3 separate regions of the Homo sapiens genome follow, and regions 1 and 3 are each linked to region 2. The links come from fine-mapping of genetic effects on gene expression. A gene starts in region 2. Each other region holds a variant in brackets. All regions are shown on one strand. Distances are from middle to middle. Region 1 overlaps SH3GL1 (SH3 domain containing GRB2 like 1, endophilin A2). Region 2 holds the start of PLIN4 (perilipin 4). Region 3 holds the start of LRG1 (leucine rich alpha-2-glycoprotein 1).

The links. PIP is the estimated chance that this variant, and not a neighbour inherited with it, causes the effect.
Region 1: its variant is fine-mapped to the expression of PLIN4 in whole blood (TOPMed, PIP 0.90).
Region 3: its variant is fine-mapped to the expression of PLIN4 in whole blood (TOPMed, PIP above 0.99).

What each region holds. Positions count from the first base shown.
Region 1 is chr19:4,368,020-4,378,476 of GRCh38, reverse strand. The region is part of intron 1 of SH3GL1 (SH3 domain containing GRB2 like 1, endophilin A2); the gene reads left to right. Among named protein-coding and RNA genes, the nearest start is that of SH3GL1, 27 kb to the left of the region's middle. RefSeq lists enhancers at 2,420-2,609, 2,411-2,705, 2,431-2,725, 2,690-2,799, 2,375-3,108 and 9 more and a silencer at 2,911-3,205. The variant G/A (reference allele first, on the strand shown) is at 4,059.
Region 2 is chr19:4,513,433-4,523,192 of GRCh38, reverse strand. PLIN4 (perilipin 4) reads left to right here and starts at 4,707. Exons shown (of 8, transcript NM_001367868.2): 1 at 4,707-4,808; 2 at 4,904-4,971; 3 at 5,495-5,639; 4 at 6,515-6,576; 5 at 9,492-9,760. The coding sequence starts at 4,921. PLIN5 (perilipin 5) reads left to right here. Exons shown (of 8, transcript NM_001013706.3): 8 at 1-662.
Region 3 is chr19:4,535,843-4,546,299 of GRCh38, reverse strand. LRG1 (leucine rich alpha-2-glycoprotein 1) reads left to right here and starts at 6,264. Exons shown (of 2, transcript NM_052972.3): 1 at 6,264-6,318; 2 at 7,349-9,898. The coding sequence starts at 6,287. The coding sequence ends at 8,360. SEMA6B (semaphorin 6B) reads left to right here. Exons shown (of 17, transcript NM_032108.4): 16 at 26-84; 17 at 1,771-3,707. The coding sequence ends at 2,699. The variant G/C (reference allele first, on the strand shown) is at 6,996.

The sequences.
Region 1 (10,457 bases), 150 kb after region 2:
TCCCAAAGTGCTGGGATTACAGGTGTGAGCCACCGCACCTGGCCTGGTGGTGTGTAGTTTCTAAAGCACATCCACGCCTGAGATGGTTGAGAAAACCGAGGCTCAGAGGGGTTTGTGTTCCTGCTCAGAGTCACAGCCCCGAACGGCAGAGCTGGAACCACATCCAGTCCCGGTGTCGCCCATCCAGGCACCCTAATCCCACGTCAGCCTGCTTGCCTCGTGGCGTTACGGCACACCTTTGCTCTGATGTGTTACTGGCACACCTGAGCTCCCGAGGGCAGGGCTGCTTCTTATTTATTTGTTATCTCAACAACTAGTATTTATTATCTCACCATATACTCAGTGACTGACGCCACCTGGGTGCCAGGCCCTGTGCTGCCTCTGCCACCCCTGTCCCTGTGCCTGGCCCTGCTGGCAGGAAGCTTGTGTTTGAGGACAGAGAACTTGGGGTGGGTTGGCGACGAGAGCCTGTCCCGAGTGGTGTCCCTCCAAGGACGATGAGCCACAGCGGGGCAGAAGGGGCCCTGGGAAGCAGGCTGCACCCGCCAGAATCTCCCAGGCCCGGGACCCAAACGCGAGTCTTCAGACAGGAGAGGCTGCAGTCTTCTCGCTGCAGGGGAGATGGTGGGGGGACTCGGGCCATTTGCCTGCTTCCTCTGTGCTGAGGCCGTGGTCAGCAATTCTGAGATTCCCAGCCCGGGTTTCCACCACCGACATCACTGTGTAAGGAGCAGGCAGTGCCTCTGAGCGGCCAGGGGCACCCATGCGCCAGAGCCAGTGCACGTGACCTGGCGAGGGGGCAGGAGTGGCCACTGCAAGGTGACAGCTGCTGGCACCTAATGCTCGCAGAGGGCCCCAGTGCACAGGCGCGGCTGGCTGTGCAGAGCTGCTGACCGCCTCTCACCACCCCCTGCCCTGCCCCGTGCCACCCGGGATGACTTCTGGCCTGGGTGCTTTTGGTAGCCACACCTCAGAAAACCTGTCTTCGTGACTGTGGGCCACCATGGGCATGAGTCACCTGTCACCAGAGCCTGGTGTCCCTGTGTAAGTGTGCCAGATAGGCAGAGGAGACAGGTGAAGGCACATTCCTCAGTGCCCGCTCACAGCTCTGCCCACCACGCATTCTGTAGAGAACCTCAGTGCCCTCCTCCCTGCTGGCAGCCAGGCAGGGATTTAGGCGGTTTCTGTTTGGCCTCCAGTGCTTGCCTCTCCCGTGTCCTATCCGCCCAGACCTCAGACCTGTCACTGTTCCCGGGCATCCTCCTGGATAAGAAACTGCCCAAATGTGGTAGCTGGGTCCCCAGGATGTGAGTCAGGCTAGGCCTGCCTAGCTCACGTTTTGTTCTTTGCAAATTTTCCCAACCTTGCAGCTCTCTGGGGAGGGAGCCAGCTCCAGGCTGGGAATGGGCCTGGCGGCCTCCATCAGTGTCAGCCCAGGTGAACCGTCCACGAGCCACAAAAGGGAAGGTGATGGGAGGAGTATCATCTGGCTGCCTTCCGGGTCACTGCGGGGAGTTGCTGCCCCCGGAGCTTAGCTGCTGTCAAGGGGTGGGATGTGGCGAGGACCCCCAAGAGGTTGCCCGGGGTCCTTTATTCTAGGGCGCTAAGCATTGGAGAGTGCTTCCTGTGTCTGAGACGGGACAGCAGGGGACCCGAAAACAAGCAAGCAAGAGGAATGCGAGGCCCCGTGAGGATAGCAGGAGGGTGGGGCAGCCTTGCAGCCATGGGGACATTTGGATGGACAGAGCCCTGGTGGCTAAGACCCAGCATGGGAAGATCCAGGGAGGCTCAGTGAGGGAGAAGGAACAGCGAGAGCAAAAGCTCTGAGGGGAGATGGGGGGGCCGCCCAGGCAGATGGGGGTGTAAGATGAAGTGTGAAGGGGCAGGCGCACGAGAGAGGAGGCATCAGTGGTGTGTTGGGAGAAGGTGAGGAGACCAGTGATGGGGATCAATCAGGAGAGCTTCCTGTGGGAGGAGGCTTCTCTGAGGTCTGAGGTCTGGGCGGATAGGACACGGGAGAGGCAAGCACTGGAGGCCAAACAGAAACCACCTAAATCCCTGCCTGGCTGCCGGCAGGGAGGAGGGCGCTGAGGTTCTCTACAGAATGCACGGTGGGCAGAGCTGTGAGCGGGCGCTGAGGAATGTGCCTTCACCTGTCTCCTCTGCCCACCTGGCACAGCTGCACAGGGACACCAGGCTCTGGTGACAGGTGACTCATGCCCATGGTGGCCCACAGTCACAAAGAAATGGAAGTCCTTCAGAAATGGAAGGGATCTTAGAGATGGTGAAGATGGTTTCTGTGTCTCAGGAAGGGCTCTGGGCTTTCGGGCAAGTCTCCTCAGCTCTCAGGGAGTGAGGGAACTCACGGCCCCTCGTTGAGATCTGTGCACCTGCAGCCTCTCACCGCTGTCACCATGCCCCGCAGTTCTCTCTCCAAGACCATTTCCAGTCTCTTCCTGCAGGGCTATGCATTGCCTCAGCTCCTTTTGAGGAGCTGTTGAGAAAAGATCGTTTTTTAAGAAAGCCTTATCGTTCCTGTGCATGTGGGTGATGTCATCACACTCTGCCCCCTGGACGCAGATCCTCCATGCTGCCCCCAGTGGGAACACCAGCCTGTGCTCAGTGCTGCAGAGCTGGTGTTTCCCTGCCAGGCGGAGCCTCAGGGGATTTATCGCCTCATTTGTTTGTGGGTTGGCTTTTTCCTTTTATAAGTTTTCATCGGAAACTGATTTTACCAGTTGTATGTCACACAGCCCTCCTGCCTGGTCCCCAAGATGAGAAATTACAATGCATGATGCATGAGGCTGATTTTCATGTAGATGTGTTCGCTCGGGCTGGAGCTCTGGGTGTGGTTTGTTCCTGGGAGAGGAGCCCCAGGCACTCACTGGCATCTCCATGTTTGGATGAAACCCTGTGCAAGGGCAAGGGTGGGAGCGTGTGTCCCACATAGCTGAGCCCCCTGGTTGGCAGGCCTGTCCTCCCGTCTCCTGGGAAGGTAGCATGAGCTTCCCACCTGCTCCCAGATTCCTCGCCCAGCCCTGGGGCGTTGCCCCTCCCCTTCCACCTGCCCTGACTGCATTCCAGGCAGAGCCAGGGTTGGTGGGGCCTGCAGTGGGGATCCCTTGACCTTCCTAGCCACTCCTGCTGTCTGGCCTTGGGCCAGGCATGTCTCTCCTAGGCCCTTAGCTGTCCTGTTTATCAAGTGGAGACATCTGCCCAGAGGCGGCAGCTGGGCCAGGTGGGGGCTGGAGGGCCCGGCTGGCTCTGTCCACTCCTCTCGGGGTTGTCCTGGAGCTCTGTGGGGTCAGCCTCGCACCACAGACAGTAGGTCCCAGCTTTCCACAGCAGAGGGCACCCCTTCTCCCCCACGCATGGAGGGGCAGGTGGGTCTCGTAGGTGCCCGAGGGGAGCAGGTCGGGCTCAGTGCTCTGCTGCCTCCTGGGCAGACTGGTAGTGGTGATGGGAGCCCCAGGGCTGCCGGTCATTAGAGCCGAGCCCAGGTCACCGCCCTGCCACCATGTGCTGGGACAGCGTGTGGCCCATGGCTTCTGCCAGACGGGCGGTGAGGGAGCCCCCACCATTGGGCAGCACTGGCCAGCCTAGGCCCCATACGGCCACCAGGCGCAGCCCGCAGCCTCCCCCACACCCATGTGGAGCTGGGCCAGGCAGGGTGCGTCCTCGGCATGCGTTTCCAAGGACTGCTGAGTCACCTCAGGGGTGACTCAGGGGCCCAGGGGCCAGGCCAGAGCCAAGGGGGACAGCAGGGGAGAGGCCGGGCTGCAAGGCCACAGCACGGGAAGGGCAGCATGCGGACCAGAGGCCAAGCCTCTCAATGCAGACGAGGGCCAGGAGGCCAGGGAGGAGGCTGTCCCGGGAGAAACGCCGATTGCCCCATCTAGGGCGGACGGGCCAGGTTCGGGCTGGTGGAGGCCTTCCGGGATGCAGGCCCTGCACAGGGTTCCTTAGGGTTTAAAGTCAGCAGCCAGAGCTGGAGGCCTCATCAGAAAGGCAGTGTGGGCTGGACTCCCGCTGGTGACTTTGCTGTCAGCACAGGAGAG[G/A]TCCTTCTGGCCCTGGGGCTGCCCTCACGGAGCCTCCGGCCACCAGACCATCATAGACCAGGCCTGAATGTCCCCTTTCTCTCTCGGGGATGGTCACAGAGCTGGCCCCTGGCCCCTGGCTGCCACTCTGTTGTGGCCACCGCTGAGCAATTTCCTGTCGTGGCTGTCACCACTTCGTCTGCGTGACTTCTTTCCAGTGGCTGATTCCCTCTCTGCTTCCAGTTCCCCTGATGTGTTGGCCTCAGACTCTTGGATGGGGCCTCCAGGGCCCATCTGGAGGATTTCTCTTGCCTAAGTTTTTTTCTCCCCCTCATTTTCATGTGCTGTGACTTCAAATGACATCGGCTCGCTGCCGCGCACACAACAAAGCATTTATCGCTCTCTGCCAATCTGAGAGTCCTTTCTCCAGCTCCAAGAGCCAGGAGTCAGGCAGGGCAGGGCCCGACAGCCTGAGAGACGGCATGAATGGCCAGCACCACAGTTGGCAGAAACGCACCCCCAAGGCGATTTAGACTGCGGTGGCCGGGCCGCACCATGGCCCCCAATGTCTGGCTGTCTTTCCCTACCATGGCACCCAGCCACACCTCTGGCCAGGAAGTCTGTGGCAGGCCTGTCCCCACAGCCTGGGGGCCGTGGGGAAGCCGGGCTCTCAGGGGGCCCTCTGTGGCCTGGTCTGAGGCAGAGCCCATTCTGGTTCCAGTCCAGAGCCGGTATCTCGGTTGCCAGCCCAGGCCCAAGGGACTGCCCCTTTGGCTGAGAGGACGCCTGGGGCTTCCAGAGCCACTGTCCTTTTGCTGCCAGAGCTTGGTTCCCAGAGGAGCGCCTGACCCGCCACAGAGGTGGGTCTGTGGCTGTCCCCGGGTGCCCAATCTGGCCATGGTGGCAGCGTCTGGTTTGGGGTTTCCGTGAGAAAATAATTTCAGAAACTTTGTCTTGATTCATTGTTTTCAGTGCCTCCGTTCCCAAAGGCTGCTTTTTAAAAACCATTCAGCCTTGATGGACAGGAGGGGAGATCTCTACTGAGAGGCTGGAGGCTCGAAGGACAGTGGCAAATCCAGGGCTCTCAGAACTCCCAGATGCTGAGGGGAGCCCCGGCTGTCGGGACCCTTCCCTCCGTGCATCACACACAGTGGGTGATGACCCAGTCAGCCCCAAGGCAGAGGCTCCCTCCATCTTCCCTTGGGCTGGGGAGTGGGTTTCTGCCGTCTGATTCCTCGCCGCCGGGCCATGAGGATCACCTGGCACCTGTGAGGGTCACTTGGCACCTGTGGTGCTCCTGTGGCCCCCCCTCCCACTGCTCCTCTCCCTCCCCCTCCTGGCCTCATCCCTGAGCATGTGCAGGAATGACTACTCCTGCTTTTCACCTGCGGATGCCCTGCAGGCTCCCAGACCAGGAGCCCAGGGGCCACAACCCCACCCATGCCAGGCACTTACTGTCACAGGAAAGCTCAGAGCTGCCTGCAGCCAGCGCCGCCCCTGTAGATAGGCGAGCTTTCATAGTCAGCACGCAAGGGCCTCAGGTCTGGAGAGTCCCCATGCCACTGGGGCCACTGAAGGTTTCCAGGAAGGACAGACAGACACATCAGCAAGCCAGGAGCCTGGGAGCCCACATGGAAAAGGGGACACGAAGGCCAGTGGCTTCCTGTGTCGCTGGGCAGCAGGCCGCCTCCAGGCTGTGCGCGTCTTCGACTTTTTGACTCATGGGAAAGAAGCTGTGATGGACTCGAGGTGGCCATGTGTGTTGGGCAGTGGCTCCCAGGTGTTGGGCCAGCAGGGAAGGGCGTTGCAGATGGAAAGGGGTTCAGAGACACACGGATATGATACATCCCTACATCCTTTGCCCCTGCCCTCTTCCCACGTCAGGGCTTTTTCTACACCACAGGGATCCTTACGTCCCTCCCTGGGGCCTCCACCCCGACCCTGTATTCCAGCTGTTTTGCACAGAGGTCTGATAAGGACTCTGCTGCTTCTGCAGGCCTTACCCTGGCTTTGCCCCTTTCCATGGCTGACCAGGCCTTGAACACAGCTGCAGTGTTAGAACTGCGCCCACTGTGAGGAGGGGCTGAGCACTCGCCTCCTCCACGTCCCCTTCAGCTTCCTCCTCTGTGACGTTGGGGGCCGGGCACAGAGTGCCTAGCATGGGGGCTGGCACATGGGACTGTGAATAGTGGCCCTTGTTCCGTGTGTCCTGCCTGCCCTGTCCCTGGTCCTGCAGGTGGCTGGGCCTGGACCCCCTCCTATGGTCCCCAGCTCCCCAACCCATGCTTTGTCCTGGGGCTGTTGTCCCCTAGTCCTGTAAATGTATGGCCTTGGCCAGGCACACTGTGTCATGCCTGTAGTTTTGGCACTTGGAAGGCTGAGGTAGGATTGCTTGAGGCCGAGTTTGAGACCAGCCTGGGCAACATAGTGAGACCCCTGCCTCTTTAAAAAGAAAAAAAAAGATGAGGCCTTGTCACAGGTATTCGCTGCGGTTGACCAGCCGTGCCCACCTGCCATTTCTCCGCTCTGTGCCTGGCACTGGGCGAGGCCCCTGTGGTCTGTGCGCTCACAGATTCCGCTGAGGAGGACTGCAGGGAGGGACGCGGAGATGGCTCTGTAGCACAGCGTGCAGCACCACAGCACCACCGATGCCGACGGGCAGGCAGACACCAGCCAGAGACCCGCTCCCCAGCCGAGGGAGGACCCGTGAACTCTGCTGTGAACCTGGAAATTACCAAGCACCACAGCATGACTGCCAGTGAGACCTGAGGACCCTGGGGCCGACCCCTCTGCGGGCAAATGTGGCGCATCCCTGCAGGCTGGGCCACAGCAGCCCTCCCTTGCCCTCCCCCACGCTGGCTTTCTTCTTTAAAAGAGAAAAAAAAACAAAACCCTGTGAATTCATCAGAGCAGATAGTCTGCTGGGGCACCAAGCCCGAGACGGGCATTTGTGTTCCGTGCTGTGTGGATCAGGTTTCCCCGCTGAGATGTTTAAATCCCAAGGCCGCCCATCGGCAGCAGCCAGCTCCACTCGGCAGGATTCGGAATTTTCCTCCTGCTCCTGCCAAGTGGCCACCACAGCTGTGCCTGCCGGGCACAGGGCAGCTGCCCACACCCCTCTGGGTAAAACCTGGGATTCTCCTGCCTACGGTAGCCCTGTCCTGACTCTCAGTCCACAGTGTCTTCACAGTTCATTTCTGTATTTTTCCACCTTGTATTCTCTGTTCTGTGTGTCACATCCCTTGCTCCCCTCCAAAGAGAGCCAAAGGTCTAAACTCTAATGAATGCCAGGCTTCAAAGGAATAGCCCCCTTCTCCCAGGGGGACAAGAGTCCCATGCTCTGGGGCAAAACCCCATCTTCGTGTCCAGCTTGCTCGTTTCCCAGGTGCCTGGCTCACAGGTGACAGAGTACAGGGTCAGGCAGAAAATCCATGCGGCATGCAGGTGGCGGGTGCAGGTGGGATGCGTGAGCATAGAGTGGGCAGGTCTCCGCTGGGCATCTCTGGGCAAAGATCTGAAAGACCACAAGCCAGTCTTGCCAAACCCTGGGGAAGTGTCCGGCAGGCAACAGTGGGATCCTTCCCAGAGGCCACTGCCAGGCCTGACTGAGCCGGGGCCTCTCCCATAGTGACTTCTCAGCCCTGGTCCTCGCCTGGCAGGGTTGGCCAAACCTCACTTCTCCCTGCTCCAGGCGGGGACATGTCACAGCCTCTGTGGGAGGCCAGCCGGCATCTGAAGCAGGGGCAGAGTCTTGGAGACTGTTCCCTCTTGGGCTCGGCCTGTTTGTTCCAGGCATGGGGAGAGAAGGCGCTGGTGTTGCTCTCAGGATGGCAGCCCTTGTGGGGCCTGCGGTTGGTCACTCGGGGTTTGCAGCTGGTACTCTGACCCCGTCCAGGTGGGGCCCTGTGGGAGAGTGGGGAGGGGGCCCCCACCCACCCTGCCACCCTGATGCAGGTTCAGTCAGCGGAGGGTGGTCTCACCCCTGAGCCCTGTTGGGTCCCTGGCTACTGAGTGGCCCCATTATTTTCCTCCGTTTCCTGCCATGCGGGGTGGGAACAGGAGGCGAGCCTTGTGGGTATGGGATGGACTCGAGTGCGGAGCTGTCATTGCCACTGCTGAGTCCGCTGCACTAGTCAGGGCTACAGCCAGCCTGCAGAGTCTCCCTCGGCAGGAATGGACTGCTGGGACCATGGCCTCAGTCCTCCCTCCCCACCGGTAGGGTCTCTGATGCGGGGGCATTGGGGCTGGCTGCCCCACAACAGGCAGCTCTTGCCTGGCAGATGGCACCAGGGTTAGGAACACTCGCTCCTGACAGCGAGCCCAGAGGCGCCCTCTGGTGAGCCTCCCCGTGGCGCCCAGCTCTGCCGCAGACTCTCGGTCCCCTCCGTGCTCAGCAGTGTGCTGGTGTGGAGACCGCAGTGAGTAGGGCCCCAGCGGGCAGGAGCCCACGCTTGGTTTCCGCGCTTGCGGCCGGCGCTGCACGTGGCCCGGCTGCCTTGCTTTTCCCGTGTTTCCCTTGTGGCTGCTCATCCCTGTGTCCATCTGTGCTGGTTTCTAGCCCATAAGCCTTGGAGAGAAGGGGCCTTACAGGGTTGTGTCCCCTGCCCAGTGCCTGGCCCGTGGGGGACCATCAGTCACCACAAGGGACTTGGCTGGAGCTGAGCAGAGGGACCCGGGTAGTTAGGGCACAGCCTCCCGGGTGTCAGGGGTGCGAGGAGTCAGGCGGTTGTGGGGGTTCAGGAAGTCGTCCTGGGGCTCAGGAAGGCAGGGTCCTGGATTCCCAGGTGAGATGGGCAGGTGGGGCCAGGGCCAGAGCCAGAGGCCACCAGGTGGGTCTTTGGTACCGTGGCGGGTCCCCAGCCCCTCCCCTCAGAGGCAGGATGTGGTCCTCGCCGGTAGGGCCTCTCCTCCTGCCCTGTGAGAGGCAGGGGGCTGGGGAAGGGCCCTGACGGAGCCACTCCTGCCAGCCTGCACACTGGGTCCTGCCTGGGCAGGTCGTGGGGCCGGGGTGGCCTCCGCCCAGAAGGTGTGGTTTCGCAGCCCGCTGGCTTCAGTTCTCCTCCCGGCTTCCCAGAAGAGTCCAGTCTCACATCAGCCACTCATTTCCCTCTCCGGCAGCCGCTGGCTCTGAGCACGCCCTCTCTCGCCACAATCAAAAGAAGTGAAACTGTCCCAGGAAATAGAGTGGAACGCCCCAAAAACACCTAGGGAGGGGGGGCTCCTTCCTCCTAATGCCTTCAGCAGAAATGGAGGGCAGCCCCACTCTCCTGCCCCGCAAGGGACAGTTCCTGCTTCTCACCTGTGCCAGAGTCAGCCCTCCCGCGGTGGGTGTGACGAGGTGATTTTTTTTTTCTTTCTTCTTTCTTTTGAGATGGAGTCTTGCTCTGTCGCCTAGGCTGGAGTGCAGTGGCTGGATCTCTGCTGACTGCAAGCTCCACCTCCCGGGTTCACACCATTCTCCTACCTCAGCCTCCCGAGTAGCTGGGACTACAGGCACCCGCCATCAGGCCCGGCTAATTTTTTTGTATTTTTAGTAGAGACGGGGTTTCACTGTGTTAGCCAGGATGGTCTCGATCTCCTGACCTCATGATCCGCCTGCCTCAGCCTCCCAAAGTGCTGGGATTACAGGCATGAGTCACCGCGCCCGGCCAACGAGGGGATTTTTAAGAAGCTTCCAAGGTGCTGTGTGGCTGAGTTGAGAGCCACCAACCCACAGGCAGGAAAGGGACAGGGGTCAGAGGCATGGGGCCTGTGCTCACTGAATGCCCGGCACACCCCGCACATGAAGGCAGGTGGACAGAAAGGGTCCCGATGCGTGGGTGAGGACAGTCCCGTGGTGTGGGGGCTTCCAGAGCCAAGCCTTGGAGGAGGGCCAGGAATTCCTTGGCAAAGGGGCTGGTGTCTTTTTGGGCAGGTTGCCAGGACACAAGACCAGCCGTGTACTCCGGGCAGGCTACCTTTTGCAGAACTTGGGGTTGGGGGCATTTGCACTCATGGTGCCTTGGGCTGTGACCTCCAGGCATGGGCTAGAGGGTACACCAGGTGCCTGGCGTGGGCAGAGCCCCAGGCTCAAGCTTCTCCTGCCCCCGCACTTCCTGCTCTTGGGTCACTTCCTCCCAGGCTGGGTCCTAAACTCCTGACTGCCCTGCTGGACACCCCCCAGCCCCACACAGCCAACGCAGTGTGGCACCACACGGACCCTCATGGCATCCCTTGGCCACGTCTTGTGACAGCTCGGGGCAGGCAAGCACCAATCAGACCTGGGGAGCACCAGGGGCACAGGCCATGGCCCACGGCACGCAACACCTCACTCTCCTGCCCAGGCCGTGTGTGCACGTCTTCACACAAGTGATCAGACCCGGGATGTTAAATTTGCCGATGACTTCAGAGATGGCACACCCTGTGACACTTGGCCCCCAG
Region 2 (9,760 bases):
AGCACTTTGGGAGTCTGAGGCAGGTGGATCATCTGAAGTCAGGAGTTCGGGATCATCCTGGCCAACATGATGAAACCCTGTCTCTACTTAGAAAGAAAGAAAAAAAAAAAAAAAGCCAGGTGTGGTGGTGTGCACCTGTAGTCCCAGCTAGTTGTGAGGCTGACGCAGAAGAATTGCTTAAACCCGAGAGGCGCGGAGCTTGCAGTGAGCAGAGATCGCGCCACTGCACACCAGCCTGGGTGACAGAGCGAGACTCCATCTAACAAAAAATAATAGTAACAGCCTCCCGAAGAAATACACATTTTGCCCAATGCCTTCTGTTTGGGGCTTTGAAAAGTGAGCCCTGACTGGGTGTGGTGGTTGACACCTGTTATCACAGCACTTTGGGAGGCCAAGGTGGGAGGACTGCTTGAGCCCAGGAGTTGGAGGCTGCAGTGAGCCATGATCTTGCCCCTGCGCTCTCGCCTGGGTGACAGAGCAAGACTCTATCTCAAAAATGTTTTTAAAAAATACTTCCTAGGGAAACACACATTTTGCCCTATTTGGAACTTTGAAAAGTGAGCCCTCCTCTGCCCATGGGCCGTGCTGCTCAGCCTGCCATACTCGCTTGCTTTGCTGTTTGGGATTTGCCTCCAGAATAAAGGTCCTTTTTGTTGTTGAAAGGCCCACGTGTGTGTTCCAGCCAGGGTGAGTCTCAGTCCCAGGGGGCTGGGGGCCACGGAGGTGTGTCACTGCTGAGACATGGAGAAGGGGGTGTGTAGAGCCAGAGTTCAAGATCTAGAAGAATGGTGCTTCTCTGACCTGCCTGTCATCCTGTCTGGGATCCACCGTTACTGCCCAGCCCATGTGGGGTAAGCATTACCACTTAAAATTAGCCGGGCACCATGGCTCATATCGGTAATCCCAGCACTTTGGGAGGCTGAGGTGGGAGGATTTCATGAGCCCGGGAGTTTTGACACCAGCCTGGGCAACATAGGAGACCTTGTCTCTACGAAAAATTTTAAAATGACACATGGTACGAGCCTGTGCCCCAGCTACTCGGGAGGCTGAGGCAGCAGGATCGCTTGAGCCTAGGAAGTTGAGGTTGCAGTGAGCTTGGATCAGTAACCACTCCACTCCAGCCTGGGCAACAGAGTGAGACCCTGTCTCTAAAAATAAACAACAGCATTGCCCCTTTGGCCGCATGGAAGCTGTTCTCATCTTGGTACAGGTGAATTTCATGGAATTGCAGGGAGCAGAAAAGATGGGGAAGGAGTCAGATGGGGCAGCTCTCTCTCTACCTCCTGGTCCTGCAGGAGCTGGTCTTGCTGTGGTCTCTCCAGCTGCACTGGCCAGGATGGGAAGACAGAGGCAGGGCAAGGGCCATAGGCTGGTCTCGGGGGTTTCCTCCTGTCCTCTGACCGCATTCCTGGCTGCTCTTCCGACTCCCCTGGGGCTGGGCGGGGTGTTGGGAAACCACAGCTTGGTATGGTGAGGTCAGGGTGGCCCCTGACTTCCCTGGGACATAGTCCAGAGGGCAGCTCTGGGATCTCCGACCACTTCCACCAGCCAAATCTACCTCCCTGCTCCTGTTCTGGAATCTCCCACAGGTCCCCACTGCCCACAGACCAAACTCTTCACCTTCCAGCTTCCTCCTCCAGCCTGACCTGGATACTTTGCTCTCTTACCATTGAAGTGGGCACATTCCCACCTCCGGGCCTTTGCTGAGGCTGTGCGGCCACCTTGGAATACTCTTCCCACCCCCCATCCGTCCCTCGGACACATCTCATACATCCTCAAGGCCCAGCCTCAATGCCTCCTCCTCCAGGAAGGCTTCCAGGACTCCATCCCAGCCGGATACTTCCCTCCTCCGGTCCTCCACAGGCCACCTTCTCAAGGTTTCTTGCCCTTTCCACCTTGACTTTATAGCCACAGGCAGCCTTGCTCTCTCTTCCCACATGAGGCTGGGGGCTCCTGGCAGGGCCAGGCCTGTTGAGGATGATCAGAACAGCACATAGGGGTAGGCATTTTGGCAGAGGGAACAGCTTAGGGAAAGGCACAGCAGTAGGGAAATCAGTTTCACTGCAGCAGAGGTGAGGAAAAGAGAATGGGTTGAGCTAAGCCCTGGGATTTTTCTTTTCTTTTCTTTTCTTTGGGGGGGTGGGGAAGGAGTCTCACTCTGTCACCCAGGCTGGAGTGCAGTGGCGCGATCTTGGCTCACTGCAACCTCCACCTCCCAGGTTCAAGTGATTCTCCTGCCTCAGCCTCCCGAGTAGCTGGGATTACAGGCGTGCGCCACCACACACAGCTGATTTTTGTATTTTTAGTAGAGATAGGGTTTTGCCATGTTGGCCAGGCTGGTCTCGAACCCTGACCTCAGGTGATCCACCTGCCTCGGCCTCCCAAGATGCTGGGATTACAGGCATGAGTCACCGCGCCTGGCCCATTAATTCATTTAATTTTTATTTAAAGATATATTTTGGGCAGCCGGGCACAGTGGCTCATGCCTGTAACCCCAGCGCTTTGGGAGGCCGAGGCAGGTGGATCACGAGGTCAGGAGATCGAGACCATCCTGCCTAGCACAGTGAAACCCTGTCTCTACTAAAAATACAAAAAATTAGCTGGGTGTGGTGGCGAGTGCCTGTAGTCCCAGCTACTCGGGAGGCTGAGGCAGGAGAATGGCATGAACCCGGGAGGCAGAGCTTGCAGTGAGCCGAGATCGCACCACTGTACTCCAGCCTGGGCGACAGAGCGCGACCCCGCCTCAACAGAAATATATATATATAAAATATATTTTTTTTATTTATTTTTTTTTTTTTTTCTTTTGTTCTTTTGAGGCGGGGTGGCGCTCTGTCGCCCAGGCTGGTCTCAAACTCCTGTGCTCAAGCCAATCCTCCTGCCTCGGTCTCCCTAAATGCTGGGGTTACAGGGTGAGCCATGGCACCTGGCCTGAGGTATATATTTTTTAAAGGGAGAGGAGATCCAGGAATGCCTCTTTGAGGAAGTGATATTTGAGGAAAGACCTGGAAGGAGGTGAGGGATGTGGGAAAGGGTGCTGGAGGCAAAAGCAACAACCCACACGAAAGCCCTGAGGAAGGGTGTGCGGGGCTAAGCAGGCACAGTCACGTGTGTCTTTGAGGGACTCTGTCCTGGCATGTTATGGGAACAGTGAAAAGGCCCGTGTGGCTGGAGCAGAGTGAAGAGAAGAAGGAGAGGAAGGTGGGGAGCAGACGAGGCAGGTTATGCAGGGCCTACCGGGCTGCAGGAAGGGGACTTGGGCTTTGACCCTGGGCTCCCACCCCGGAGAAGGTGGGAGCCATGGAGGGTGCTGGGCAGAGGAGGGGTAGATCCTGGCTGGGATGTTTATGATCACTTTTTAATTTTTTCTCTCCACACACTGGGCTGTGGCTGCCCTTTGGGAAGGGGAGGGGCACCCAGAGCTCTCCCAGCCACCCTTGGGAAGCACTGGCTGGTAGAAGAGGTTGGGGGACACCCCCCCTTCTGTTCCCCCACTGTTTGGCAAACACAGTGTCGGCTCCAAGGAGACAGACGGCCTGGGAATCATCAGATCCTGTGGCTGTACCCTCCCTCCTCCCAGCCCAGTGCCCAGAGCCACCCATGGGGTCTGCCCTCTCACCCCCAATAACACAGGGCTAGGAACCCTGTCTCAGGGGCAGGTAGGAGGGGGACACAGCCCAGGGTGGGCGTTACGGCCATTCCTCTGCCCACCCACCCACAGACAGCCCAGCACATAGGCTGGGCTCAGCACGAAGGTCCTGGGTCTGGGTTTGAATCCCGTCCTCACCACTTCCTGGAACAGGAGGGTCTGGGTTTGAATCCCATCCTCACCACTTCTGGAACAGGACGCCTCCTCCAGGGAGCCTCCCTGGGTTGGCCCAAGCCCCCCAGGCTGGGTTTCCACTCCTAGGGTGCCCCCAGCTTGGCTGGTGCTCCATCTTGGTCTGCGTTTTGGCCCAAGTCCCTTCCGGAGAGTGATGGGCTCCCCTCCACACTGAGGACACCCCCTGCTCCTTGCCGAGACCCCGAGACCCCGCTTCTGCCTGGGTAACGCGAAGGCAGCATTTGTTCAGTGCATGACCTCATCTCACAGAGGCTCACAACCACTCTCTGTGTTGCTCCATTGAGCCAAACGTGTATTAAGCGCCAAATGTATGCCAGGCACTGTTCTGTGGGCGGAAGAGGGTGCCCTGTGGGAACCTGCAGGGAAGGTGTTCCAGGCAGAGGGCACAGCCCGTGCAGAGGCCCTAAGGCAGGACCGTGCCAGGTGCGCTGGAGGCATAGCGAGGAGGCCTGTGTGGCTGGGATGAAGCAAGCGAAGGAGGAAGCTGGGGGAGATGAGAGCAGAGAAGAAGCTGGATGTTACGGGACGTGGTGCGGAGTACGAGAGAGAAACCTGAAGCAAAAAGATGGTAACTGGCCAAGGCATCCTGGTGCAGCAGAGATTTGAACTACACCCACCTCGTGGATGGAACTGGAGGCTCAGGGGCCCGGGAGGGGAGCCCATCTGGCCTGTGAGCCACTCAGCCTGATGCAAGCTGTGGGCAGGAAACAGGGGAAAGGTGCTGGGCCTGGGCCCATGCTGGGCTGGGCAGGTAGCCATGTGACCGTCCAGGCCACCTCCCCCGGGCCCATTGGCCGCCTGCCGCTGCTGGCTGGGCCTGCGCCTGCCCCGGACCCTATAAGGCCAGGGAGCTGAGGGTAGAGCCAGCTGCCAGCCGGGCCGGTCCGTCCTCCAGGGGACCCCGCGCAGTCCAGGTGAGCGGGGCCGCGTCTGCTTCGGTGACACCAGGGTGAGGCCAGGCCTGCAGGTGGGTGTCGGGCTGCTCAGGCTTTCAGTGGGGAGTGGGTGTGGGATGGGAGGCTAGGGAACCCCCATTCACGCACCTTCTCTGCCCCCTTCCAGCTTCTCACGTTCTCACTATGTCTGCTCCAGACGAAGGGAGACGGGATCCCCCCAAACCGAAGGGCAAGGTAAAGAGGGGAAATGGGGCAGATTCTTGCTGGGGCCTGGAGATGCCCCAGAGCCGGGGAAGGTGACCTCCACAGTCCTGGGGTCTCGAATCTGGAGAGGTGCTTCCCTGGTGGGCTGGTGGGGGCGGTCTGGGAGCCATGATGCCAATCCCTTCCTTTCTGACCCAAGCTGGAGGCGGGGGACCCACGCAGACCTCGACACCTTCCCCAGCAAGTGACCTTGGGCCGGCCTCAGCTCCGCCCCTCTCTGAGCCTCAGTTTCCCCATCTGTGCAGTGGGGATCCTGGAAGGAAAAGGTCTTTGGAGATCGGGTAGACGATCTTTTCCTCTGTGCATGGGAGGCAGGCTGAGTCTGCCCATTGCCCAGGTGTGGAAATTGAGGCTGAGTGGCTGAAACACTTTCCTGAGGTCACCCAGGAGCAAGGGGCCGGGGCGGCATTGGGCTGATCAATCGATGCTTCCTCTGACCCGTTCCTGCCGAGGCTTGGCCTGCTCATCCTGCACACCCCCCGCCCCCATGCAGACCCTGGGCAGCTTCTTTGGGTCCCTGCCTGGCTTCAGCTCTGCCCGGAACCTGGTGGCCAACGCACATAGCTCGGCGAGAGCCCGGCCGGCCGCTGACCCCACAGGAGCGCCTGCTGCCGAGGCTGCCCAACCACAGGCTCAGGGTGAGTGGCTGGCCCAGCTGGGGGCGTGGGGGGACTCTACACATGGACCTGGGAGAAGGAGCTCCCCGGGCAGGGACTTCCAGCCATTTGGGGAGTCCTCCATATTTGTCTGTGTGCTCTCATCAGACACTAGGACATCTTGTGGTGGATGGGGAAACTGAGGCATAAATATGGGGGGTGAGTGGCCGAAGGTGGCTTTCAACCCAGCCTGTCTCCCTGCAATGCCCCCCCACTCAGTCCCTCGGCCGTTCCCCCACCCTGCACTCCGTTTCTGATGCACCATGGCCCAGGCTGGGTGCTCTGCCCATCTGAGCTCATCAGAGTGAGATCCAGACTCCCAGGGAGGAGCAACAGCTCCCCTGGGGTCACACAGCCCAGGGGCTCCCCAGCCTCCTGTGGCTCAGCTTGGGCGATCAGGGACGGTGACAGGGAACCCAGGGTTGGGGCAGCCGCCTGAGCTGGGCCTCCCTCTGGGCCCAGAGCCCCAGGCAGCTGACTTCTGCTCCACATGCCTTGGCCTGGCAATAGGCAGCAGGCAGCTGCGGTGGGGGCGGGGCGGGCTGGGCAAGGGGCTGTTCCCCCATGCCAGGCTATATGAACCCCGGGACTCAGGGTGGGTGTCCACCCAGCAGAGGAAGTTCCACAGAGCCCTACTTCAGGGAACAGCGGCCCTGGGCTTGGGGGGAGCCCCCAGCGGGGTTGGGGGGTGACCAGGTCTGGCTGGTAGCCGTGGATGTCACCTCCTGCTGTCCCTGGCGGGGTAGCTGAAACATTCCTGACCTTTTAGGCTGTGCCTGGCTATTGTGCAATGGGCAGCCGGGTAGATGGTTCTAACTGCATCCCTCACTCTCCCTGACCGGCCCCTGTCCCCACAGTGGCTGCCCACCCAGAGCAGACGGCCCCATGGACGGAGAAGGAGCTGCAACCTTCGGAAAAGGTGAGAGGATGTGCAGGGCAGGGTCTGATGTGGCAGGAGCCCTGGGGGTGCCCCCTCCTGCGACATTTCAGTTCCTGCTATCTGGGGGGCTGCTCCCTCCTGGGACATTTCAGTTCCTGCTATCTGGGGGGCTGCTGTGGGCCTGAGGGAAGGCAGACAGCCTGGGGATCCCAGGCGGAGCTTCCCCTCTGAGCCTCTATTTCCACATCTGTGAAATGGGTGCAGTGCTACCCCACTCTAATCACGTAAGGTTCCAGTCTACACAGGGCTGTGCCTGGCAAGATGAGACCAAAGCGACAGCAGCGTAAGCACTTTATTTCTTCTACTTTTATTTTTTGAGATGCAGTTTTGCTGTTTCACCCAGGCTGGAGTGCAGTGGCACAATCTCAGTTCACTGCAACCTCTGCCTCCCAGGTTCAAGCGATTCTCCTGCCTCAACCTCCTGAGTAGCTGGGACTACAAGTGCTCACCGCCATGCCCAGCTAATTTTTGTATTTTTAGTAGATACGGGGTTTCACCATGTTGGTTTCACCAGGCTGGTCTCCAACTCCTGACCTCAAGTGATCCACCCACCTCAGCCTCCCAAAGTGCTGGGATTACAGGCATTAGCCACTGCGCCTGGCAAGAGGATCTGTTTTAATCAGCATTTTCCAGATGAGGATATTAGCTCAGAGAGGGCATGTGGCTTGCCTAAGGCCACACAGCGAGTGTCGGGAGCAGGAGAGGGTAAAAAGCTGGGACTTGAACCTGGGTCTCTCCAACTACAGGGCCCAAGGTGCCCACCTGAGCCAAAGCTGGGAGATGTGTTCTGAGAATACAATTTCCGGGCTTCTCAACCTCAGTACTGTGGATATTTGGGGTTGGATCATTCTCTGGGGTGGGGCCATCCTGGGCACTGCAGGGTGCCGAGCAGCATCCCTGGTCTCCACCTACTCCATGCCAGGAGCCTCCCCAAGTTGTGACAACTACAGATGTCTCCAGACATCACCCAGTGCCCCCTGGGGGCAGAATCACCCAGTTGAAAACTACTGAATTAAAATAGCACCTTGGCCGGGCACGGTGGTTCACACCTGTAATCCCAACACTTTGGGAGGCTGAGGCAGGCAGATCAGTTGAGCTCAGGAGTTTGAGACCAGCCTGGCCAACATGGTGAAACCTCATCTCTACTAAAAATACAAAAATTAGCTGGGCATGGTGGTGCACGCCTGTAATACCAGCTACTCAGGAGGCTGAGGCAGAAAAATTACTGAACCCAGGAGGCGGAGACTGCAGTGAGCCGAGATCTCGCCACTGCACTCCAGTCTGGGTGACAGAGTGAGACTCTGTTTCAAAAAACAAACAAACAAAAAAAGTAGCACCTCACAGGTACACCCGAGAGTTAGAACTCCTAGGCCATCATCATCTTCATTCATTTTTGTGTTTTTTAATTTTTTTTTATCTTTTGAGACAGTCTCGCTCTGTCACCCAGGCTGGAGGGCAATGGCACGATCTCGGCTCACTGCAATCTCTGCCTCCTGGGTTCAAGCGATTCTCCTGCCTCAGCCTCCAGAGTAGCTGGGATTACAGGTGCCTGCCACCATGCCTGGCTAATTTTTGTATTTTTAGTAGAGACAGGGTTTCGCCATGTTGGTCAGGCTGGTCTCGAACTCTTGACCTCAGGTGATCCACCTGCCTCGGCCTCCCAAAGTGCTGGGATTACAGGCGTGAGCCACCGTGCCCGGCCTGTTTTTTTTTTTAAAGATGGGGTCTCACCGTTGCCCAGGCTGCTCTTAAACTCGTGGGCTCAAGCAATCCTCCTGCCTTAGCCACCCATAGTGCTGGGATTATAGGCATGAGCCACTGTGCCCAGCCTGAATATATTATTATTATTATCATTATCATTATTATTTGAGACAGAGTTTCGCTCTTTCACCCAGGCTGGAGTGCAGTGGCGCGATCTCGGCTCACTGCAAGCTCCGCCTTCCCGGGTTCATGCCATTCTCCTGCCTCAGCCTCCCGAGTAGCTGGGACTACAGGCGCCCACCACCACACCCGGCTAATTTTTTGTATTTTTTTAGTAGAGACAGGGTTTCACTGTGTTAGCCAGGATGGTCTCGATCTCCTGACCTCGTGATCTGCCCGCCTCGGCCTCCCAAAGTGCTGGGATTACAGGCGTATATCATTATTTTTGAGACAGAATCTCATGTTGTTGCCCAGGCTGGAGTACAGTGGTACGATCATATCTCACTATTGCCTCAACCTCCTGGGCTCAAGCAATCCTCCCACCTCAGCCTCCCAAATAGCTGGGACTACAGGTGTGCCCCCCGCCCAGCCAGTTGTTAAAATTTTGTAGAGACTGGGTCTTGTTTGGTTGCCCAGGTTGATCTTAAACTCCTGGGCTCAAGTGATCCTCCCACCTTGGCCTCCCAACATGCTAGGATTGCAGGCATCAGCCATCACACCCAGCCTGGATATAATGATTTTAATAAGCAATTTAGTCTCCCTGGTGTCCCTGGGACGCCAGGCTCAACATTTGCCATGAATGGAGAATAAGCAAGAGGAACAGAAATGTAACTGTAGGACCTGCGTTGAGTCCAGGCCTGGGGACCCTGGCTGAGTCCAAGCCTAGGACATGCTGTCATGGACGAGGCCTGCCTGCAGCCGGGAAAGGGGGTGCGTGAGAATGGAAGAGGCTGGCGCTGTGAGCTCATGAGGACTTCATCCCGGAGAGCCAGGGTGCCACACCACAGCCCGATGAATGTCTGGCTGACCGGGGTCGGGGTGAGGAGGAAGCAGCTTGCTTTTTGAGGAGGTGGGGCCTCTGGGTGCCTGCAGTTCCTTGCCCCAAAGCACACTAGGGGGCTGGGCTGGCAGACATCGGGGTGGAGTACACCTCTCAGTCCTTCTCTTGATCCACCTGTGTCCTTTCTCAGCAGATGGTGTCCGGGGCCAAAGACCTGGTGTGTTCCAAGATGTCCAGGGCCAAGGATGCCGTGTCCTCCGGGGTGGCCAGCGTGGTGGACGTGGCTAAGGGAGTGGTCCAGGGAGGCCTGGACACCACTCGGTCTGCACTTACGGGCACCAAGGAGGTGGTGTCCAGCGGGGTCACAGGGGCCATGGACATGGCTAAGGGGGCCGTCCAAGGGGGTCTGGACACCTCGAAGGCTGTCCTCACCGGCACCAAGGACACGGTGTCCACTGGGCT
Region 3 (10,457 bases), 23 kb before region 2:
TGACGGTGCCTCCTCTCCCCATTAGAGCCGCCTTTGAGCAGGACGTGTCCGGGGCCAGCACCTCAGGCTTAGGGGACTGCACAGGTGAGTTGGGGGGACGGCAGGCTAAGACCCCCATCCCCCACTACCATGGGGGAGGGGAGGGAGGAGGCTGGAGGACCCTCGAATCCTCTGGGAGGTGGGTGGGGAAACTGGACTCCATCAGAGAACTTTAGAAAGGCATGGGGTGGGCCGGGCGCGGTGGCTCACGCCTGTAATCCCAGCACTTTGGGAGGCCAAGGTGGGTGGATCACGAGGTCAGGAGATCTAGACCATCCTGGCTAACACGGTGAAACCCCGTCTCTACTAAAAATACAAAAAATTAGCCGGGCGTGGTGGCGGGCGCCTGTAGTCCCAGCTACTCGGGAGGCTGAGGCAGGAGAATGGCGTGAATCCGGGAGGCAGAGCCTGCAGTGAGCCAAGATCACGCCACTGCACTCCAGCCTGGACGACAGAGCAAGACTCCGTCTCAAAAAAAGAAAAGAAAGGCATGGGGTGGTCTCATCTCATTTATTGGGGAGGGAGATAGGGGAAGAACAGAGACACCAAGAAACAGGCAGGCTTTGGCAAGGACGAAGAGACAACAGAAGGCAGACAGACCAACTTCAACAGGACAGAAGGGGCCAGGCGCGGCAGCTCCTGCCTATAATCCCAGCATTTTGAGAGGCCAAGACAGGACGATCACTTGAGGTCAGGAGTTTGAGACCAGCCTGGGGAATATAGTGAAACCCTGTCTCTAAAACAAAAACCCAAAAATAATCCAGACGTGGCAGTGCATGCCTGTAGTTCCAGCTACTTGGGAGGCTGAGGCGGGAGGATCGCTTGAGCCCAGGGAGGTGGAGGCTGCAATGAGCTGTGATCAGGCCACTGTACTCCAGCTTGGGCAACAGAGTGAGAACATGTCTTTTTTTTTTTTTTTTGAGACAGAGTCTTGCTCTGTCACCCAGGCTGGAGTGCAGTAGTGTGATCTCAGCTCACTGCAACCTCCACCTCCCGGGTTCAATTGATTCTCCTGCCTCAGCCTCCCAAGTAGCTGAGATTACAGGCGCACACCACCATGTCCGGCTAAAATTTGTATTTTTAGTAGAGATGGGTTTCACTTGTTGGCCAGGCTGGTCTCAAACTTCTGACCTCAGGTGATCTCCTGCCTCAGCCTCACAAAATGCTAGGATTATGGGTGTGAGCCATCATGCCTGGCCCAGATCCTGTCTTTAATAAAACAAACAGGTAGCTGGAGGCAGGGTTGCAGTGAGCTTTACCACTGCACTCTAGCCTGGGGGACTGTCTCAAAACAAACAAACAAAAAAAATTAAAAAATAATAAAAATAAGGCCAGTCGTGGTGGCTTATGCCTGTAATCCCAGCACTTTGGGAGGCAGAGGTGGGCGGATCACAAGGTCAGGAGTTCAGACCAGCCTGGCCAACGTGGTGAAACCCCATCCTACTAAAAATACAAAAATTAGCCGGGCGTGGTGGTGGGCACCTGTGGTCCCAGCTACTCGGGAGGCTGAGGCAGGAGAATCACTTGAACATGGGAGGCGGAGGTTGCAGTGAATCGAGATCGCCCCACTGCACTCCAGCCTGGCACACAAAGGAAGACTCCTTCTCAAAAAATAAATAAATAAAAAAAAATAAAAATAATAAAAAAGAGGACAGAGGGCCCCGAGGAGGTAGGAGGGATGCCCAGGGCCACCCCGCCGGCCCCACTAACCCCCCTGTGCTCCCCGGCCAGGACTCCTGCGGGCCAGCCTCTCCGAGGACCGCGCGGGGCTGGTGTCGGTGAACCTGCTGGTAACGTCGTCGGTGGCGGCCTTCGTGGTGGGAGCCGTGGTGTCCGGCTTCAGCGTGGGCTGGTTCGTGGGCCTCCGTGAGCGGCGGGAGCTGGCCCGGCGCAAGGACAAGGAGGCCATCCTGGCGCACGGGGCGGGCGAGGCGGTGCTGAGCGTCAGCCGCCTGGGCGAGCGCAGGGCGCAGGGTCCCGGGGGCCGGGGCGGAGGCGGTGGCGGTGGCGCCGGGGTTCCCCCGGAGGCCCTGCTGGCGCCCCTGATGCAGAACGGCTGGGCCAAGGCCACGCTGCTGCAGGGCGGGCCCCACGACCTGGACTCGGGGCTGCTGCCCACGCCCGAGCAGACGCCGCTGCCGCAGAAGCGCCTGCCCACTCCGCACCCGCACCCCCACGCCCTGGGCCCCCGCGCCTGGGACCACGGCCACCCCCTGCTCCCGGCCTCCGCTTCATCCTCCCTCCTGCTGCTGGCGCCCGCCCGGGCCCCCGAGCAGCCCCCCGCGCCTGGGGAGCCGACCCCCGACGGCCGCCTCTATGCTGCCCGGCCCGGCCGCGCCTCCCACGGCGACTTCCCGCTCACCCCCCACGCCAGCCCGGACCGCCGGCGGGTGGTGTCCGCGCCCACGGGCCCCTTGGACCCAGCCTCAGCCGCCGATGGCCTCCCGCGGCCCTGGAGCCCGCCCCCGACGGGCAGCCTGAGGAGGCCACTGGGCCCCCACGCCCCTCCGGCCGCCACCCTGCGCCGCACCCACACGTTCAACAGCGGCGAGGCCCGGCCTGGGGACCGCCACCGCGGCTGCCACGCCCGGCCGGGCACAGACTTGGCCCACCTCCTCCCCTATGGGGGGGCGGACAGGACTGCGCCCCCCGTGCCCTAGGCCGGGGGCCCCCCGATGCCTTGGCAGTGCCAGCCACGGGAACCAGGAGCGAGAGACGGTGCCAGAACGCCGGGGCCCGGGGCAACTCCGAGTGGGTGCTCAAGTCCCCCCCGCGACCCACCCGCGGAGTGGGGGGCCCCCTCCGCCACAAGGAAGCACAACCAGCTCGCCCTCCCCCTACCCGGGGCCGCAGGACGCTGAGACGGTTTGGGGGTGGGTGGGCGGGAGGACTTTGCTATGGATTTGAGGTTGACCTTATGCGCGTAGGTTTTGGTTTTTTTTGCAGTTTTGGTTTCTTTTGCGGTTTTCTAACCAATTGCACAACTCCGTTCTCGGGGTGGCGGCAGGCAGGGGAGGCTTGGACGCCGGTGGGGAATGGGGGGCCACAGCTGCAGACCTAAGCCCTCCCCCACCCCTGGAAAGGTCCCTCCCCAACCCAGGCCCCTGGCGTGTGTGGGTGTGCGTGCGTGTGCGTGCCGTGTTCGTGTGCAAGGGGCCGGGGAGGTGGGCGTGTGTGTGCGTGCCAGCGAAGGCTGCTGTGGGCGTGTGTGTCAAGTGGGCCACGCGTGCAGGGTGTGTGTCCACGAGCGACGATCGTGGTGGCCCCAGCGGCCTGGGCGTTGGCTGAGCCGACGCTGGGGCTTCCAGAAGGCCCGGGGGTCTCCGAGGTGCCGGTTAGGAGTTTGAACCCCCCCCACTCTGCAGAGGGAAGCGGGGACAATGCCGGGGTTTCAGGCAGGAGACACGAGGAGGGCCTGCCCGGAAGTCACATCGGCAGCAGCTGTCTAAAGGGCTTGGGGGCCTGGGGGGCGGCGAAGGTGGGTGGGGCCCCTCTGTAAATACGGCCCCAGGGTGGTGAGAGAGTCCCATGCCACCCGTCCCCTTGTGACCTCCCCCCTCTGACCTCCAGCTGACCATGCATGCCACGTGGCTGGCTGGGTCCTCTGCCCTCTCTGGAGTTTGCCTCCCCCAGCCCCCTCCCCATCAATAAAACTCTGTTTACAACCACCGGCCCCCATGACTCTGGCTCTGCTCTGCCTCCTGGGGGTGGCACGGGTGGGGGCACCCTCAAAAGTCAAGGCCAGGCCGGGCGCGGTGGCTCACGCCTGTAATCCCGGCACTTTGGGAGGCCGAGGTGTGCAGATCACTTGAGGTCAAGAGTTCGAGACTAGCCTGGCCAACATGGCAAAACCCCGTCTCTACTAAAAATACAAAAAATCAGCCAGGCTTGGTGGCGGGTTCCTGTAATTCCAGCTACTCGGCCGACTGAGGCAGAAGAATAGCTTGAATCTGAGAGTCAGAGGTTGCAGTGAGCTGAGATCACACCACTGCACTACAGCCTGGGTGACAGAGCGAGACGCTGTCTCAAAAAAAAAAAAAAAAAAAAGGCTGGGTCAAAACAAATCTGGGGAGCTGAGTGTGGAAACATGGAGACTTCGGGGTCCCCATCTTCATCTGCATAGGAGCCAGTTTCTTTTTCTTTTTCTTTTTCTTTTTTTGAGACAGAGTCTCACTTTGTCACCCAGGCTGGAGTATAGTGGCGCGATCTCGGCTCACTGCAACCTATGCCTCCTGGGTGCAAGCAATTCTCCTGTCTCAGCCTCTCCAGTAGCTGGGACTACAGGCACCCGCCACCACGCCCCGCTAATTTTTGTATTTTTAGTACAGACGGGGTTTCATCATATTGGTCAGGCTGGTCTCGAACTCCTGAACTCAGGTGATCCGCTTGCCTCGGCCTCCCAAAATGCTGGGATTACAGGCGTGAGCCACTGCGCCTGGCCAGCCTTATGAATTTTGTTTTAAGTGGGACAAGAAGCCATCAGAGAGTTTTAAGCAGGGATGTGATCTCATTTCATTTTAATGGATCGTTTTGTTACTGTGTCACTACATTTCACAAGCCTTCCTTCCTCTCAGTCCATGTTGATTAAGACCAACTAACGGCTGGGCTCCGGAGACTGGGCAGGGCACAAGACTGACGGAGTGCAGTGGCTCACGTCTATAACCCCAGCACTTTGAGAGACTGAGAAGATTCCTTGAGCCCAGGAGTTTGAGACCAGCCTAGGTAACATACAAAAGAATTTTTTAAATTAGCCAGGCATGGTAGCATGTGCCTGTATTCCCAGCTACTCGGGAGGCTGAGGCAGGAGAATCGTTTGAACCCAGGAGGTGGAGCTTGCAGTGAGCCGAAATTGCATCACTGCACTCCAGCATGGGTGGCAGAGGGAGACTCCATCTCAAAAAAAATTAGCCAGGCATGGTGGCACGTGCCCGTAGTCCCAGCTACTTGGGAGGCCTTGGACCCATGGTCAAAGCTACAGTTAGCTATGATTGCACCACACTGCTCCAAGCTGGGTAACAGAGCAAAATGCTGTCTCAAAAAAAAAAAAAAATGACGGGGCATGGTGGCTCACACCTGTAATTTTAGCAGTTTAGGAGGCCGAGGCCAGTGGATCACATGAGCTCAGGAGTTCAAGACCAGCCTGGGCCACATGGCAAAATCCTGTCTCTATTAAAAATATAAAAATTAACCAGGCACGCTGGTGCATGCCTGTAGTCCCAGCTACTCGGGAGGCTGAGGTGGGAGAATGGCGTGAACCCGGGAGGCGGAGCTTGCAGTGAGTGGAGATCACGCCACTGCACTCCAGCCTAGGCAACAGTGCAAGACTCTGTCTCAAAAAAAAAAAGAAAAAAAAAATAGTCATAGCTGCAGATAAAGGTGACACCATCATACCTAAATATTTAGAACTCAACAAGAATGCAAGCACTCTGCAGCCAAGTCCATGAGATGCAGCCAAAGCTGTTCTCAAAGGGAAATTTGTAGCCTCCAAACGCATTTAATAGGAAATGAGGAAGAATGGAAACAATAGCATGGATGTCAGATTCAGATGAAGAGAAAAAAGGGCAGAAGGAGCCCTTGGAGATTTGAGTTCAGCTTCATAGATGGGGAAACTGAGGCCAAGAAAAGTTAAGTCACTTGCCAAAGGTCACAAAGCAAAGGTGTTCATGACAGAGCTGGAATTCAGAACCAGGTTTGGTTCCTCCCAAGCCACTGTCTAAGGACCGTAGAGACGTTTGGCATTACTCACTATTGGACTGTATTTTTAAAATGACTTCTTTTAAAAAAAGCAATATCAACATACCATGAAATCAAGACGAGTTTTTTTGTTCTTTTCAGTGAGCTTCTGGGTTGCTCAAGTTTATGGTAAATCCCTCCTCTTGCTCAGAGAGCTGTCCCTGTCTCCAGGAATAGTGCCTTGCAAACCTTGACCCTTGAACTCCGGGTTGGGGGAAGTGAGGATGCAACTAGAGAGACTCTTGGATGCCCCCCAAAAATCAGGAAGCAAGGAAAGAAAAACCTGTGTTCTAGAAGCAGGGTCAAAAAGGGGTTGAACAGGAAACAATTTCCAGGAAGCAATTTTGTAATCCTGACCCCTCCCCTTCCCCTGCCTGGCTTAGGCTCAGCCCCTATCAGGAACTGGACGGGGGTGGGGACTTCCCCAGGGTTGGTTCCCCTGCCCCCAGTCCAGGCAGGTATAAGGCCACCTCCGCAGGCCAGGACAACCCAGAAGCAAAAGAGCAGAGCTACCATGTCCTCTTGGAGCAGACAGCGACCAAAAAGGTAGGTCCCCACACTACCTGTCCTAGGCAGGTTTGAACGCCAGACCATGCGGAGATACAGGACATTCCAGCTAACCCATAGAAGTCACAGGGAGCAGATACAGGCCTGGTGGCTGGCACAGATCAACCTTATCTGTGACAGAAAGACTGGCGCGTGCACACACACACACACCCCTACAGAAGCCCAGGTGGGCATGGGCAGCAGGGAGCCGGGGGAGGCTTCTTGTTAGAGGCCTGGGGCCACAGTGACCAAGGCTGTCGAGATCATGTCTGATGGCTGCCGGGCCAGGGAAGCCCTGGAGGAGGAGGGGAAGCCCCAGGCTTCCAAGGGTTGTGGTGCTAAGTGTAAACCACCGCTTCCCAAGGCCAAATGCCCACCCTCAGACCTGGCCAAAGCAGGACACACTTTTCATGTTCAGAGGCTGCAGTGAGCTGTGATCATGCCAGTTCCCTCCAGCCTGGGCAACTGAGCAAGACTCTGTCTCAAAAACATGAACCTGAACGTCTGTCTTCCTCCAAGCACCCAATTGGTCAAGAGTGGACAAAAAGACCAGGATCCCAGAGCAGAGAAGTCTTCATGGAAAAGAGGGCATTGGAGCTGGGGCTTTGAAGGATGAATAGGAGTTCACATCAAAACACAGAGCCAGGGAGACAAGGACTGACCCAGAAAATAAGCCA[G/C]ATCAGAAGAAACTAGCAAGTTGGACTGTGAATAATTAACAGCTCATGGGGGCTAGGCTGGTGATGGGGAAGTGTATTCATATTATGCGGGAGTTACACTCAGAAACTCAACTTTCCTAGAATTATAATTCTCCCTGGAACAGGGGCCACTTCTGGCAGCTGTCGGGGGTGAGGGTAGAAGCTGGAAGAGGAGGAGGAAGCAACTGCCCTAGTACAGGTGAGAGATGAGGTAGCATAGTCCAGGCTGGTAGCCGCAGAGATGGGAAGAAGTGGGCGGATTTGCTGGTGTATTTTCACCTAGCTGAGTGTATTTTCACTGTGGTTTAGTAAGCATCTTCTGTTACTGCCTGCAGCCCAGGGGGCATTCAACCCCATGTTTCTAGAACTCTGTTCCTGCTGCTGCTGTTGGCAGCCTCAGCCTGGGGGGTCACCCTGAGCCCCAAAGACTGCCAGGTGTTCCGCTCAGACCATGGCAGCTCCATCTCCTGTCAACCACCTGCCGAAATCCCCGGCTACCTGCCAGCCGACACCGTGCACCTGGCCGTGGAATTCTTCAACCTGACCCACCTGCCAGCCAACCTCCTCCAGGGCGCCTCTAAGCTCCAAGAATTGCACCTCTCCAGCAATGGGCTGGAAAGCCTCTCGCCCGAATTCCTGCGGCCAGTGCCGCAGCTGAGGGTGCTGGATCTAACCCGAAACGCCCTGACCGGGCTGCCCCCGGGCCTCTTCCAGGCCTCAGCCACCCTGGACACCCTGGTATTGAAAGAAAACCAGCTGGAGGTCCTGGAGGTCTCGTGGCTACACGGCCTGAAAGCTCTGGGGCATCTGGACCTGTCTGGGAACCGCCTCCGGAAACTGCCCCCCGGGCTGCTGGCCAACTTCACCCTCCTGCGCACCCTTGACCTTGGGGAGAACCAGTTGGAGACCTTGCCACCTGACCTCCTGAGGGGTCCGCTGCAATTAGAACGGCTACATCTAGAAGGCAACAAATTGCAAGTACTGGGAAAAGATCTCCTCTTGCCGCAGCCGGACCTGCGCTACCTCTTCCTGAACGGCAACAAGCTGGCCAGGGTGGCAGCCGGTGCCTTCCAGGGCCTGCGGCAGCTGGACATGCTGGACCTCTCCAATAACTCACTGGCCAGCGTGCCCGAGGGGCTCTGGGCATCCCTAGGGCAGCCAAACTGGGACATGCGGGATGGCTTCGACATCTCCGGCAACCCCTGGATCTGTGACCAGAACCTGAGCGACCTCTATCGTTGGCTTCAGGCCCAAAAAGACAAGATGTTTTCCCAGAATGACACGCGCTGTGCTGGGCCTGAAGCCGTGAAGGGCCAGACGCTCCTGGCAGTGGCCAAGTCCCAGTGAGACCAGGGGCTTGGGTTGAGGGTGGGGGGTCTGGTAGAACACTGCAACCCGCTTAACAAATAATCCTGCCTTTGGCCGGGTGCGGGGGCTCACGCCTGTAATCCCAGCACTTTGGGAGGCCCAGGTGGGCGGATCACGAGGTCAGGAGATCGAGACCATCTTGGCTAACATGGTGAAACCCTGTCTCTACTAAAAATATAAAAAATTAGCCAGGCGTGGTGGTGGGCACCTGTAGTCCCAGCAACTCGGGAGGCTGAGGCAGGAGAATGGCGTGAACTTGGGAGGCGGAGCTTGCGGTGAGCCAAGATCGTGCCACTGCACTCTAGCCTGGGCGACAGAGCAAGACTGTCTCAAAAAAATTAAAATTAAAATTAAAAACAAATAATCCTGCCTTTTACAGGTGAAACTCGGGGCTGTCCATAGCGGCTGGGACCCCGTTTCATCCATCCATGCTTCCTAGAACACACGATGGGCTTTCCTTACCCATGCCCAAGGTGTGCCCTCCGTCTGGAATGCCGTTCCCTGTTTCCCAGATCTCTTGAACTCTGGGTTCTCCCAGCCCCTTGTCCTTCCTTCCAGCTGAGCCCTGGCCACACTGGGGCTGCCTTTCTCTGACTCTGTCTTCCCCAAGTCAGGGGGCTCTCTGAGTGCAGGGTCTGATGCTGAGTCCCACTTAGCTTGGGGTCAGAACCAAGGGGTTTAATAAATAACCCTTGAAAACTGGATCGGATGAATTGGCTTTCATTGTGTTCCTAGCATCTTCTCAAATCAACTTCCCAGGACTCCAGGGTGAAGGAGGAAAAGAGGCATGGCCCAGGCCCTGGGGTGTGGGATATGGTCTCCCTAGGGGATGACAGTTGGGATCAATGGCCTGTGACTTCTCCTCTCCCTTCCCCCATCCTGGGACCTAACTGGAAATAAAACCTTGACTGTTGCCCGGGTGTCATTTTACCAGTGGATTTCTGCCAGGGCTTGTGTCCTAGGAGAAGGTTTAAGTTAAACCAGATTGCCCAGGTCTCCAAACGATTTGTCATGCTGACCTGAGATCATCGAAGGGGGCACCTGCCCCCGGGCAAGGTTGCAGGGGCAGGATGGGGCTGAAGGGATGAGCAGGGTCCCGGGCCCACCTGCTGATACAGCATTGGCCATGTGGGGGCTGCAATCGGATTTGGAAGACCCTGGGGCTTGGGGGCATGTCCAGTTTTCCCAGCTCCCTAAAAAATGACCATGCAGCCTGGCGCCGTGGCTCATGCCTGTAATCCAAACACTTTGGGAGGCTGAGGCAGGCAGATCACCGGAGGTCAGGAGTTCGAGACCAGACTGGCCAACATGGCAAAACCCTGTCTCTACTAAAAATACAAAAATTAGCCAGGCACAGTGGCACGTGCCTGTAATACCAGCTACTTGGGAGGGTCAGGCAGGAGAATCACTTGAACCTGGGAGGCGGAGGTTGCAGTGAGCCAAGATCACGCCACTGCACTCCAGGCTGGGCGACAGAGTGAAACTGTGTCTCAAAAATAAAAATAAAAATAAAAAGACCATGCCTACATCTGTGGTCATTCCAGGCAAGGCAATGAAAAGGCAGGGTTCTGAGGTCCAGCAGGGCTGGGTTTGAATAGGATCCCTGGCCGGGCACGGTGGCTCATGCCTGTAATCCTAGTACTTTGGGAGGCCAAGGCAGGCAAATCACGAGGTCAGGAGTCCAAGACCAGCCTGACGAATATGGTGACACCCCGTCTCTACTAAAAATACAAAAATTAGCTAGGTGTGGTGGCAGGCGCCTGTAATCCCAGCTACTCCGGAGGCCGAGGCAGGAGAATCACTTGAACCCAGGGGGCGGAGGTTGCAGTGTGTCAAGATCGCGCCACTGCACTCCAGCCTGGGCGACAGAGTCAGACTCTGTCTCAAAAAAAAAAAAAGAAAAAAAAGGAATAGGATCCCTCACTTGCTGTGGTATGCGGGGCAAGTGTTTTATGATCTCTGAGCCTCAGCTTGCTCATCTGTGAAATGGGGATCCTAGGGAAAGGGAAGGCCTGGCTTCTGGCTTAGTTAAGGGGCAGATTAAGAAATAAAAAGAGGCTGGGTGCAATGGCTCAC